Regions from separate parts of the Homo sapiens genome. Here region 1 is linked to region 2. The links come from fine-mapping of genetic effects on gene expression. A gene starts in region 2. The other region holds a variant in brackets. All regions are shown on one strand. Distances are between the middles of the regions.

What was found. PIP is the estimated chance that this variant, and not a neighbour inherited with it, causes the effect.
Region 1: its variant is fine-mapped to the expression of BST2 in whole blood (TOPMed, PIP above 0.99).

What each region holds. Positions count from the first base shown.
Region 1 is chr19:17,379,342-17,384,784 of GRCh38, reverse strand. LOC105372298 (a long non-coding RNA gene) reads left to right here and starts at 5,013. Exons shown (of 3, transcript XR_936362.3): 1 at 5,013-5,105; 2 at 5,299-5,372. RefSeq lists an enhancer at 4,737-5,443. The variant T/C (reference allele first, on the strand shown) is at 3,153.
Region 2 is chr19:17,403,454-17,408,751 of GRCh38, reverse strand. It overlaps BST2 (bone marrow stromal cell antigen 2), which reads left to right and starts at 3,122. Exons shown (of 5, transcript NM_004335.4): 1 at 3,122-3,461; 2 at 4,315-4,381; 3 at 4,563-4,623; 4 at 4,928-5,072. The coding sequence starts at 3,177. The coding sequence ends at 5,057. BISPR (BST2 interferon stimulated positive regulator) reads right to left here and starts at 3,066. Exons shown (of 4, transcript NR_130766.1): 1 at 2,981-3,066; 2 at 2,456-2,675. It also overlaps a transcript of MVB12A not described here. RefSeq lists enhancers at 884-1,410, 2,111-2,160, 2,361-2,410, 2,461-2,520, 2,711-3,090 and 2 more.

The sequences.
Region 1 (5,443 bases), 24 kb after region 2:
GCGTGATCTCGGCTCACGGCAACCTCCACCTCCCTGGTTCAAATGATTCTCCTGCCTCACCTTCCCAAGTAGCTGGAATTACAGGCACGTGCCACTACACTGGGCTAATTTTTTTTTTTTTTTTTTTTGAGACGGAGTCTCGCTCTGTCGCCAGGCTGGAGTGCAGTGGCGTGGTCTCGGCTCACTGCAACCTCCGCCTCCTGGGTTCAAGTGATTCTCCTGCCTCAGCCTCCCAAGTAGACTCCCAAGGGATTACAGGCACGTGCCACCACACCTAGCTAATTTTTGTATTTTTTTTAGTAGAGATGGGGTTTCGCCATGTTGGCCAGGCTGGTCTTGAACTCCTGACCTCATGATCCGCCCGCCTCGGCCTCCAAGTGCTGGGATTACAGGTGTGAGCCACTGCGCCTGGCCAATATTTTTATTTTTAGTGGAGACAGGGTTTCACCATGTTGGGCCAGGCTGGTTTCGAACTCCTGACCTCAGGTGATTCACCTGCATCGGCCTCCCAAAGTGCTGGGATTACAGGCGTGAGCAACAGCACCCGCCCTCTGCTGGTCATCTCTTTAAGTGTCTTTCTGTCTCTGGTTATCTCTGTCTGTCTACCCCTGTCTCCAGGGCACCATCCTGGGTAATCCCTATCCGTGGCCACACTGGACCTCCCCTCCCATAGCTGGAGGGACAGGGGTAGGGGACAAAAATGGAAAGCCCACAGTGGCCTTGGCAGGAGGGGACATGGGCTAGTTGCAACCTGACCTTTCCAGCCCTCCAGTCACAGGCAAGGAAGTAGGTCCCTGTTTTTCTTTTTATTTATTTATTTATTTATGACACCGAGTTTCACTGTTGTTGCCCAGGCTGGAGTGCAATGGCGCAGTCTCAGCTCACTGCAACCTCCACCTCCCGGGTTTAAGCGATTCTTCTGCCTCAGCCTCCCCAGTGCTGGGATTACAGGCATGCGCCAGGACACTTGGCTAGTTTTGTATTTTTAGTAGAGACGGGGTTTCTCCATGTTGGTCAGGGTGGTCTCAAACTCCTGGCCTCAGGTGATCTGCCTGCCTCAGCCTCCCAAAGTGCTGGGATTACAGGCGTGAGCCACCACGCCCAGCCTAGGTCCCTGTTTTTCAGCAGGGAACACAGAGTCCCAGAGAGCACAGGTTTCCCCCACCCCACAGAGGGACTCTCTTCGCTGCCTCCGTCACCTCCAAAAGCACAAAACTTAACTTCACTTCGATTAACCAAAAACCAAACTCACAGACATAAAAGTGGAGGGTTGGCCCGGTGCAGTGGCTAATGCCTGTAATCCCAGCATTTTGGGAGGCTGAGTTAGGAGGATCACTTGAGGTCAGGAGTTCAAGACCAGTCTGTCCAATATGGTGAAACCCAGTCTCTATTAAAAATATAACAATTAGCCGGGGGTGGTAGTGTGTACCTGTAGTCCCATCTACTTAGGAGGCTGAGCCAGAATTGCTCTAACCTGGGAGACAGAGGTTGCAGTGAGCCGAAATGGCGCCACTGCACTCCAGCCTGGGCGACAGAGCGAGACTCCGTCTCAAAAAAAACAAAAAAAGAAAAAGAAAAAAAAAAGCCAGGCGCAGGGGCTCACGCCTGTAATCCTAGCACTTTGGGAGGCCGAGGTGGGTGGATCACGAGGTCAGGAGATCGAGACCATCCTGGCTAACACGGTGAAACCCCATCTCTACTAAAGGCACAAAAAATTAGCCTGTAGTCCCCAGCTACTCTAGAGGCTGAAGCAGGAGAATGGCATGAACCCGGAAGGAGGCGGAGCTTGCAGTGAGCCAAGATCGTGCCACTGCACTCCAGCCTGGGCAACAGCGCAACACTCCGTCTCAAAAAAAAAAAAACAAAATAGTGGAAGGTTTTCTGAACTTCACTGAAATCCTTCTTCACCAGAAATATCACTTCCTCAAGGACCTTCCTGAAGTTCTGAGTGATTTTGTTTTTTTTTAACTCGTGTCTCCATGAGGACTTCAGTGTCAGTTTTCAGGGAGTGACACAGAGTTGACTTCCTCATGACAGTTTTTCCTTCTCCACTCAAACAAACAAATGAAACCAAATCAATTGTTTTCTGTTTAGAAAAACAAAAGGGTTTAAAAAGCAAGCCTGATTTTCTGATGCCCCTCCAAGGGAATTTGAAGGGATTCATGTGCAAAATTTCCTGTGAACATGACAAATTGTTTTCAGGAAAAAACCCAACACTCACATCAGGGCTGATGCATTTGACTTCATGTAGATTCTTGATCAGGCACTCACATTCTCCCTCCAGATTTTTCTGGCCAAGGACACAAACAGAACATTTTCATAAAGTCCATGTTTGGAGATTTCAGACATCGCAGGCAAAGATGTCAATGAAAACAACCTCTTTGAAGGACAAATTGGTGACAACTATCAAAATGTAAAAATGTGCCCACTTTGAGACCCAGTAATTTCATTCATTTCTGGAAATTTGATTTTCTTTCTTTCTTTCTTTCTTTCTTTCTTTCTTTTTTTTTTTTTTTTTTTTTTTGAGACCGGGTCTCACTCTGTCACCCAGGCTGGAGTGCAGTGGTGTGATCTCGGCTCACTGCAACCTGTGCCTCCTGGATTCAAGCAATTCTCTGCCTCAGCCTCCCAAGTAGCTGGGACTACCACACCCGGCTAATTTTTGTATTTTTTGAAGAGATGGGATTTCAACATGTTGCCCAGGCTGGTCTCAAACTCCTGGACTCAAGTGATCCGCCTGCCTTGGCTTTCCAAAGTGCTTTGGATTACAGATGTGAGCCACCGCACCCAGCCAGGAAATTTGATTTTAAATCTTCTTTTATTTATTGAAAAACTAACTCAGAAAAAATCTAAGTGTCCATTCATAATTTTATGGTACTGTATCTGGTGAAAACCTAAACAGCCAGCCATAGGAGTCAATGAATCTCAAAGACATAATACTGTGCAAAAAGAGGAAGGTCTATCTTTACCTTTTTTTTTTTTTTTTTTTTTGAGATGGAGTCTCACTCTGTAGCCCAGGCTAGAGTGCAGTGGCACGATCTGGGCTCACTGCAACCTCCACCTCCCAGGTTCAAGCAATTCTTCTGCCTCAGCCTCCCGTGTAGCTGGGAGTACTGGCATCCGCCACCATATCTAGCTAATTTTTGTATTTT[T/C]AGTAGAGATGGGGTTTCACCATATTGGCCAGGCTGGTCTCGAACTCCTGACCTCGTGATCTACCCGCCTCGACCTCCCAAAGTGCTGGGATTACAGGTGTGAGCCACGACCCCCAGCCTACCCTTTTTGCTAAAAAAAAAAAAAAAAAAAAAAAAAAAAAAAAAAAAAAAAAAATCAGGCCTGGCGTGGTGGCTCACGCCTGTAATCCCAGCAATTTGGGAGGATGAGGTGGGTGGATCACCTGTGGTCAGGAGTTCGACACCAGCCTGGCCAACATGGCGAAAGCCCATCTGTACTAAAAAATACCAAAAAAAAAAAAAAAATTAGCTAGGCATGGTGGTGTGCACCTGTAATCCCAGCTACTCAGGAGGCTGAGGCAGGAGAATCACTTGAACCCAGAGGTGGAGGTTGCAGTGAGCCAAGATCATGCCATTGCATGCCAGCCTGGACGACAAGAGAAAACTCTGCCTCAAAACAAACAAACAAAAAGTTACAAAGTTAAATCAGCTAATATAACAAATGATCCAAAACAGAAACATTACAAATTAAAGGTGTGAGATCAAATTAGAAAAGGACACCAAATATTGTTTTTGGGCTTGATACAAATAACATTGGTATGTATATTTAAAACTCTGCTTCTCACATGGTGACAACTGTTCAAAATTGTGGCACATCAGTACCATCAGGTCCGGGGGGCTTTTTGTTTTCTGGGAGTTTGAGGTTGCCTTTATTTTTCCTTGTCAACTGGTATCACATTCATACATACATAGATGCAACATCTTCTATATACAATGAAGAACAGCCAAGATCTTAAGTGTACACCAAGACCCACATCTACTGGCATTGGCCCAGACACTGCACCCAGCCTCAGCTCCTCTGCTGGACCCTGGTCACCCACACTTCATCCCCATCATGCTCTCCTTTCCCCAGTGCTCTCACAGGCCTGGGGCACCGGCAGCTGGGAATACTGCCCCTCCCCTATGTCTGAGTTCCTCAGCCTGACATCAGAGGCCAGGCATGATCCAGCCCTCACATCTTAAAAAATGCCATCATTGCCCGGTGCGGTGGTTCATTCTGTAATCTCAGCACTTTGGGAGTCCAAGGCAGGTGGATCACCTGAGGTCAGGAGTTTGTGACCAGCCTGGTCAACATGGTGGAACCCCGTCTCTACTAAAAATACAAAAATTAGCTGAGCAGTAGTGCTGCACATCTGTAATCCCAGCTACTTGGGAGGCTGAGGCAGGAGAATTGCTTGAACTCTGGAGGCAGAGGTTGCAGTGAGCCGAGATCGCACCACTGCACTCCATCCTGAGCAATAGAGCAAGACTCTGTCTCAAAAAAAAAAGGCCATCATTTATTAAGACTGAGTATGTTCCAGGCATGACGTCAAGTACTTCAAAACTGGCTATGTTGTTGGCCAGGTGAGGTAGCTCACGCCTGTAATCCGAGCACTTTGGGAGGCCGACGCAGGCGGATCACGAGGTCAGGAGTTTGAGACCAGCCTGGTGAAACCCTGTCTCTACTAAAAATACAAAAAATTAGCCAGGCATGCTGGCGCGTGCCTGTAGTCCCAGCTACTCAGGAGGCTGAGGCAGGAGAATCCCTTGAACCCAGGAGGCAGAGGCTGTGGTGAGCCAAGATAGTGCCACTGCACTCCAGCCTGGGGAACAGTGCCAGACTCCATCTCAAAAAAAAAAAAAAAAAACAAAAAAAAAAAACAAAAAAAACTGGCTATGTTGTCTTCACTTGATTTTTGTTTTGTTTTTGTTTTTTGGGTTTTTTTTTTTTTAGAACAGGGTCTTGAACTTGTGGGCTCCAACGATTCTCCCACCTCTGCCTCCCTAACTGCTGGGATTACAGGTGTGAGCCACTGCACCTGGCTATCTCCACTTCGGACAGGAGAAAACTGAGGCCCAGGGAGGGAAAGTCACTTCTCCAAGGCCACAAAGCTGGTAGGTGGCACAGTCAGAACTCAACTCCAGAACTCTAAACTGTAATGCTGGGTTCACTCAGACTACATTGCCCCCATTACGGAGGATGTTCTCCTCCTGCCCAGCTCTGGGGGGCTCTGGGTGGGTCTGGCCAACCCAGAGAAATGGCTGGTTGGGCACCCGTGGCAGCCCCCAGCCCTCCTTCCCCCACTAGCAGCCGCCGACGACGCCGCTGGGAAGGGTCCGGAATCAGGATCAGGAACCACCGGGTAGCTGCAAAGGTCAAAGGTCAGACATGGGTTTCCTGCCCACCCCTGGGAACTTCCTTCTTCTCAACTCTACACTCGCCTCACTGAGCA
Region 2 (5,298 bases):
ATATAGGCCAGGTGCAGTGGCTCACGCCTGTAATCCCAGCACTTTGGGAGGCTGAGTCAGACAGATCACCTGAGGTCAGGAGTTCAAGACCAGCCTGGTCAACATGGCAAAACCCTGTCTCTACTAAAAGTACAAAAATAAGCCAGGCATGGCGGTGGGCGCCTGTAATCCCAGCTACTCAGGAGGCTGAGGCAGGGGAATCGCTTGAACTCCGGAGGCAGAGGTTGCAGTGAGCCAAGATCGTGCCACTGCACTCCAGCCTGGGCAACAAGAGCGAGACTCCATCTCAAAAAAAATTAATTAATTAATTAATTAATTAAAACAAAATAAAATAAATATATGTACTTAAAATATATATATATATTTATTTTTAAATAGGGATAGGATCTCTCTATGTTGACCAGGCTGGTCTCGAACTACTGGCCTCAAGCAATCTTCCCATCTCAGCCTCCCAAAGTACTAGGATTGCAGGCATGAGCCACTGCACCCATCCCACCATTTGTAATTGTGGGCGGCAAGCCACCCAGGTGCCAAGGCAAGAGACTGAGGACACGAGCTGTTCCAGTATAATAAAATATAAAACAAGAATAGTTATACCAAATATAGATCTTAGAGATATATGAATATCATTAATCATTAGTTTGTAGTAATTACTCTTTATCCCAATAGTATAATAATCCTCGGTCTACAATCATAACCTAGGAAAAACCAGGCCATACAGAGATAGGAGCTGAGGGGACATAGTGAGGTGTGACCAGAAGACAAGAGTGCAAGCCTTCTGTTATGCCCGGACAGGGCCAGCAGAAGGGCTCCTTGGTCTAGCGGTGACGCCAGCGTCTGGGAAGACGCCCGTTGCCCGAGCGGACAGTGGTCTAGCGGTAGCGAAAAGTGTCAAGGAACAACACCCACTACTTAGCAGACCGGGAAAGGGAGGCTCCTTTTCCCTGGGGGAGTTTGGAGAAGACTCTGCTCCTCCACCTCTTGTGGAGGGCCTGACATCAGTCAGGCTCGCCCGCGGTTATCTGGCAGCCTAACCGTCTCCCTGTGATGCTGTGCTTCAGTGGTCACGCTCCTAGTCCGCCTTCATGTTCCATCCTGTACACCTGGCTCTGCCTTCTAGATAGCAGTAGTCATTTAGTGAAAGTACTAAAAGTCTCTGATATGCAGAAATAATGGCATAAGCTGTCTTTCTGTCTGTCCCCTCTCTCTCTCTCTGCCTCGGCTGCCAGGCAGGGAAGGGCCCCCTGTCCAGTGGACACGTGACCCACGTGACCTTACCTATCATTGGAGATGACTCACACTCTTTACCCTGCCCCTTTTGCTTTGTATCCAATAAATAACAGCACAGCCAGACATTCGGGGCCACTACCAGTCTCCGCGCATTGCTGGTAGTGGTCCCCCGGGCCCAGCTGTCTTTTCTTTTATCTCTTCGTCTTGTGTCTTTATTTCTACACTCTCTCGTCGCCGCACACAGGGAGAGACCCACTGACCCTGTGGGGCTGGTCCCTACAGTAATTTTAAAGGGAAGAGCAACAAACTTTCGGTTTGCAGGGCTGGGACTGTTTACAGCTGCAAAATTTAGAGAGGACATCAATCTATTATTATCCACATTTTACAGCTGGGGAAATCAATGCTAAGAGAGGAAATTCATTTGCCCAGAGGTGCACCACCCTGGCCTCCAATGTGCAATTCATGCAATTGTGATTTCCGACCTGGTCCCAAACTAACCCTAAAGTTAGCAGGCCAGAACAGTGCTGCTCAAATAAGTCAGCTTAGTCAAATAAGTCAGGCAAAGGTCGTGTCTTTGCACCTGGAGTCCTGGCCAGGCTGGTAGGTCCCTCCTCCTGGGACAAGTTCACCCTCAGAATTTTCAGCAAGATCATCTCCCACAGCTTGTTAATTGGTTCTTGGTTCTAAGTGATTTTTTTGTTTATTGGTTTAAGAGATGGGATCCCACTCTATCACCCAGGCTTGAGTGCCGTGGCACAATCATAGCTCGCTGCAGCCTCAAACTCCTGGGCTCGAGTGATCCTCCTGCCTCAGCCTCCCAGCCTCAGCCTGGGACCACAGGCATGTACCACCATGCCTGGCTCTAAGTGGCTTTAATGGGGTCCTTCTGAGGGATGTTGGAGTCAGGGCCTGGGGGGAGTTCCCCAGGCCTTCTGGGAGGCCTGGGCTCTGGACTTGACCTCGCCTACTGTCTGGCCCTGCTGAAAAGAAAAAAAAACATGGAAATGGCAGACCTAACAGAATCTGGGCTGTGGTCAGGATGTGGCTGAAGAAGCCACAAGAAAAACATGCAGTCCCCTTTCAGCGGTCATGCCCAGCAGTTGGGTGCCGATAATGGGCCTGATTTCCTGTAGGAAGCCCTGGCTCTCTTGGCCACATGGACAGTGTCTGAGGCTGGCCCTGTTATTCCCCTTTGCAGATGAAGAAACAGGCTCAGAGAGTTTACCTGGTATCCTGGAGTCCCAGGAGCACTTTTTCTGGAAGTAGGAGCTTGTTTCCTGCAGGTGCCAAGACAGAGACCGACATTGTTTGTTGGCTGGGTCGGTCTCCCAGTTTTCAGCTGGCTCCAGTCTCACCTGTTGCTCACACACCCTCCATGTCTCCCATAGTCCCCTCGGTGGGGACAGAGGCACTGGATGAAGCCCTGCTCGTCACCACAGAGACACCTGAACACAAAAACCAGTCCCTGGGGTCAGACCCAGGCCCCGCCCCCAGACCCAGGCCCTGCCCTCACTCCACCACGCAACTGTGCAACCTCAGTTTCCCCAGGTGGAGACCGGACCAACAGTGATGGCCTCTGCCTCTTCAGGTCATAGTACAGATGAATACAGGCTGGCACGGCCTAGGCACTCAGTAACACACAGCAGAGGCACAGGGACTTAAGATGGAGTGTCCCAGGCAGCCACAGTTGGCTGGCACCCAGCTGGGAAGGGCCCAAGGGCTTTTAAAGCAGGGTGAAAAAAAAGCCCACCTCCTTTCTGGGAAACTGAAACTGAAAACCTAATTAATCCTCTGCCTGTAGGTGCCTCATGCAAGAGCTGCTGGTCAGAGCACTTCCTGGAACTTGCTATTGGTCAGGACGTTTCCTATGCTAATAAAGGGGTGGCCCGTAGAAGATTCCAGCACCCTCCCCTAACTCCAGGCCAGACTCTAAAGGGGAGATCTGGATGGCATCTACTTCGTATGACTATTGCAGAGTGCCCATGGAAGACGGGGATAAGCGCTGTAAGCTTCTGCTGGGGATAGGAATTCTGGTGCTCCTGATCATCGTGATTCTGGGGGTGCCCTTGATTATCTTCACCATCAAGGCCAACAGCGAGGCCTGCCGGGACGGCCTTCGGGCAGTGATGGAGTGTCGCAATGTCACCCATCTCCTGCAACAAGAGCTGACCGAGGCCCAGAAGGGCTTTCAGGATGTGGAGGCCCAGGCCGCCACCTGCAACCACACTGTGGTAAGCTCCTCAACTCCTTTGGATGGCCTAGTACTAGGCGGTGGGAGGGACAAGAATCTCTCCCCAGAAATCTGACCCAGGGTGGGTCTCCAGGGAGATGCAGGGGAGGTCCTGAAACTGCTCCTGGGCCCCCACATCAAGGGACCTAGGTTCCCCTACCAGGGTTTGTGGGCCCCTAACCCAGTCCAGGGCACTGGTGTAGGGGCAGGGTGTTAAAACTCTCCAGATCCCCCAAATCGGGGACCTCAGTATCCCCCTGGGACTTAGGTGAATTTATAAATTCTTTCCAGGGCACTGGTGTCGGGGGCCTTGAAACTCCTCGTGGGCACCAGTCCTGGGGGAGTAGAAATCCCTATTCAGGGTTGAAGGGGGACCTCACCAGACCCTGAAAAAGGGGGCTTTTGAAATTTTCACTTCATCCCTAAGAAACTGAAATATTCACCTGGGTCCTGATATGGGGGATCTTGAAACTCTCGCTGGGCATGTCACTTGGGCGGGGAAATCCCACTGCATTCTGGATTTGGTAGGGCCCTCTAACTTTTCTTGGGCCATTGCTCAGGCAATCTGGAAATGTCCACTAAACTTTGGTTATCGATAGCCTCCAAGTTTCCACGTGGGGTGGCCTCAAAACTCCCATTTTGAGGACCCACATGCTTATGGGTGGCCCTGGGAGAGTGTGTGGTTGTGGCTGTTCTTTAAGGTTGGAGACCATGGTGCAGAGAGGGTTGGAAGAAAACCTGAAAGGGGTTTGCATTTAAGCCCCTCTGTCCCCAGGACCTAGGGAGGAGGCCCAGGTCCCAGGGGCAGCAGCCAAACTCCCCAGGCCAAAACCCCAGATTCTAACTCTTCTTAGATGGCCCTAATGGCTTCCCTGGATGCAGAGAAGGCCCAAGGACAAAAGAAAGTGGAGGAGCTTGAGGGTGAGAAAGGGAGAAGGGAGAGGGCCGGGGAGGGGTGAGTCAGGTATGGAAGAGGGGGTGGGGGCAGGGAGACCAGGGCTGGAGGTTGGGGTAAGGGGGAGGTTCTGTCCCAGAGTGGAGCAGGGCCCCAGCATGGCCACATGCTGACCCGCCCCCTGTTTCTGTCCTCCCACCCTACCAGGAGAGATCACTACATTAAACCATAAGCTTCAGGACGCGTCTGCAGAGGTGGAGCGACTGAGGTCAGAGATAGCCTTCCCCCGCTACCCTCCACCTGCCACATTCCTCTCACCCCCACATCCCTAGCCCAAGACCCAGGATCTCCTTTGCTCCCAAAATCCCCATTGCCCCAAGGGATAAAGTTTGAGTCCCACAAAAGGATAACTTAGCCCCTAGGGTCACAGAGCCATGGGTGGCCGCTGTCCATTCCCTCCCCGGTGACTTGGATTGGGGCGGTGCGGGGGGAACTCCCGGGGGCGGTGGGCTTACAGGGAGGGCGGCAGGAGCCAGGACGAGCAGATGCCTGATTTGCCATCTGTACCGCAGAAGAGAAAACCAGGTCTTAAGCGTGAGAATCGCGGACAAGAAGTACTACCCCAGCTCCCAGGACTCCAGCTCCGCTGCGGCGCCCCAGCTGCTGATTGTGCTGCTGGGCCTCAGCGCTCTGCTGCAGTGAGATCCCAGGAAGCTGGTCAGTGAGGAGGGGGCGGCCCCGGGAGGGAGAAGAAAGCTGGGGAAGCGGGGCGGGGAAGCAGAGGCTCCGAAGTCTAGAGAGAGAGGCTGCAGGGGAAGGGACTGGGCGCAGAGGTGAGGGGCCTTGGGGAAGGAGGGAGAATCCAGTGAGAAGGATGCCCTGGATCGGGGACGGGCTGATAGCTGTATGGGGCGGGGCTATCAATGGGGGCGGGTCTATCGAT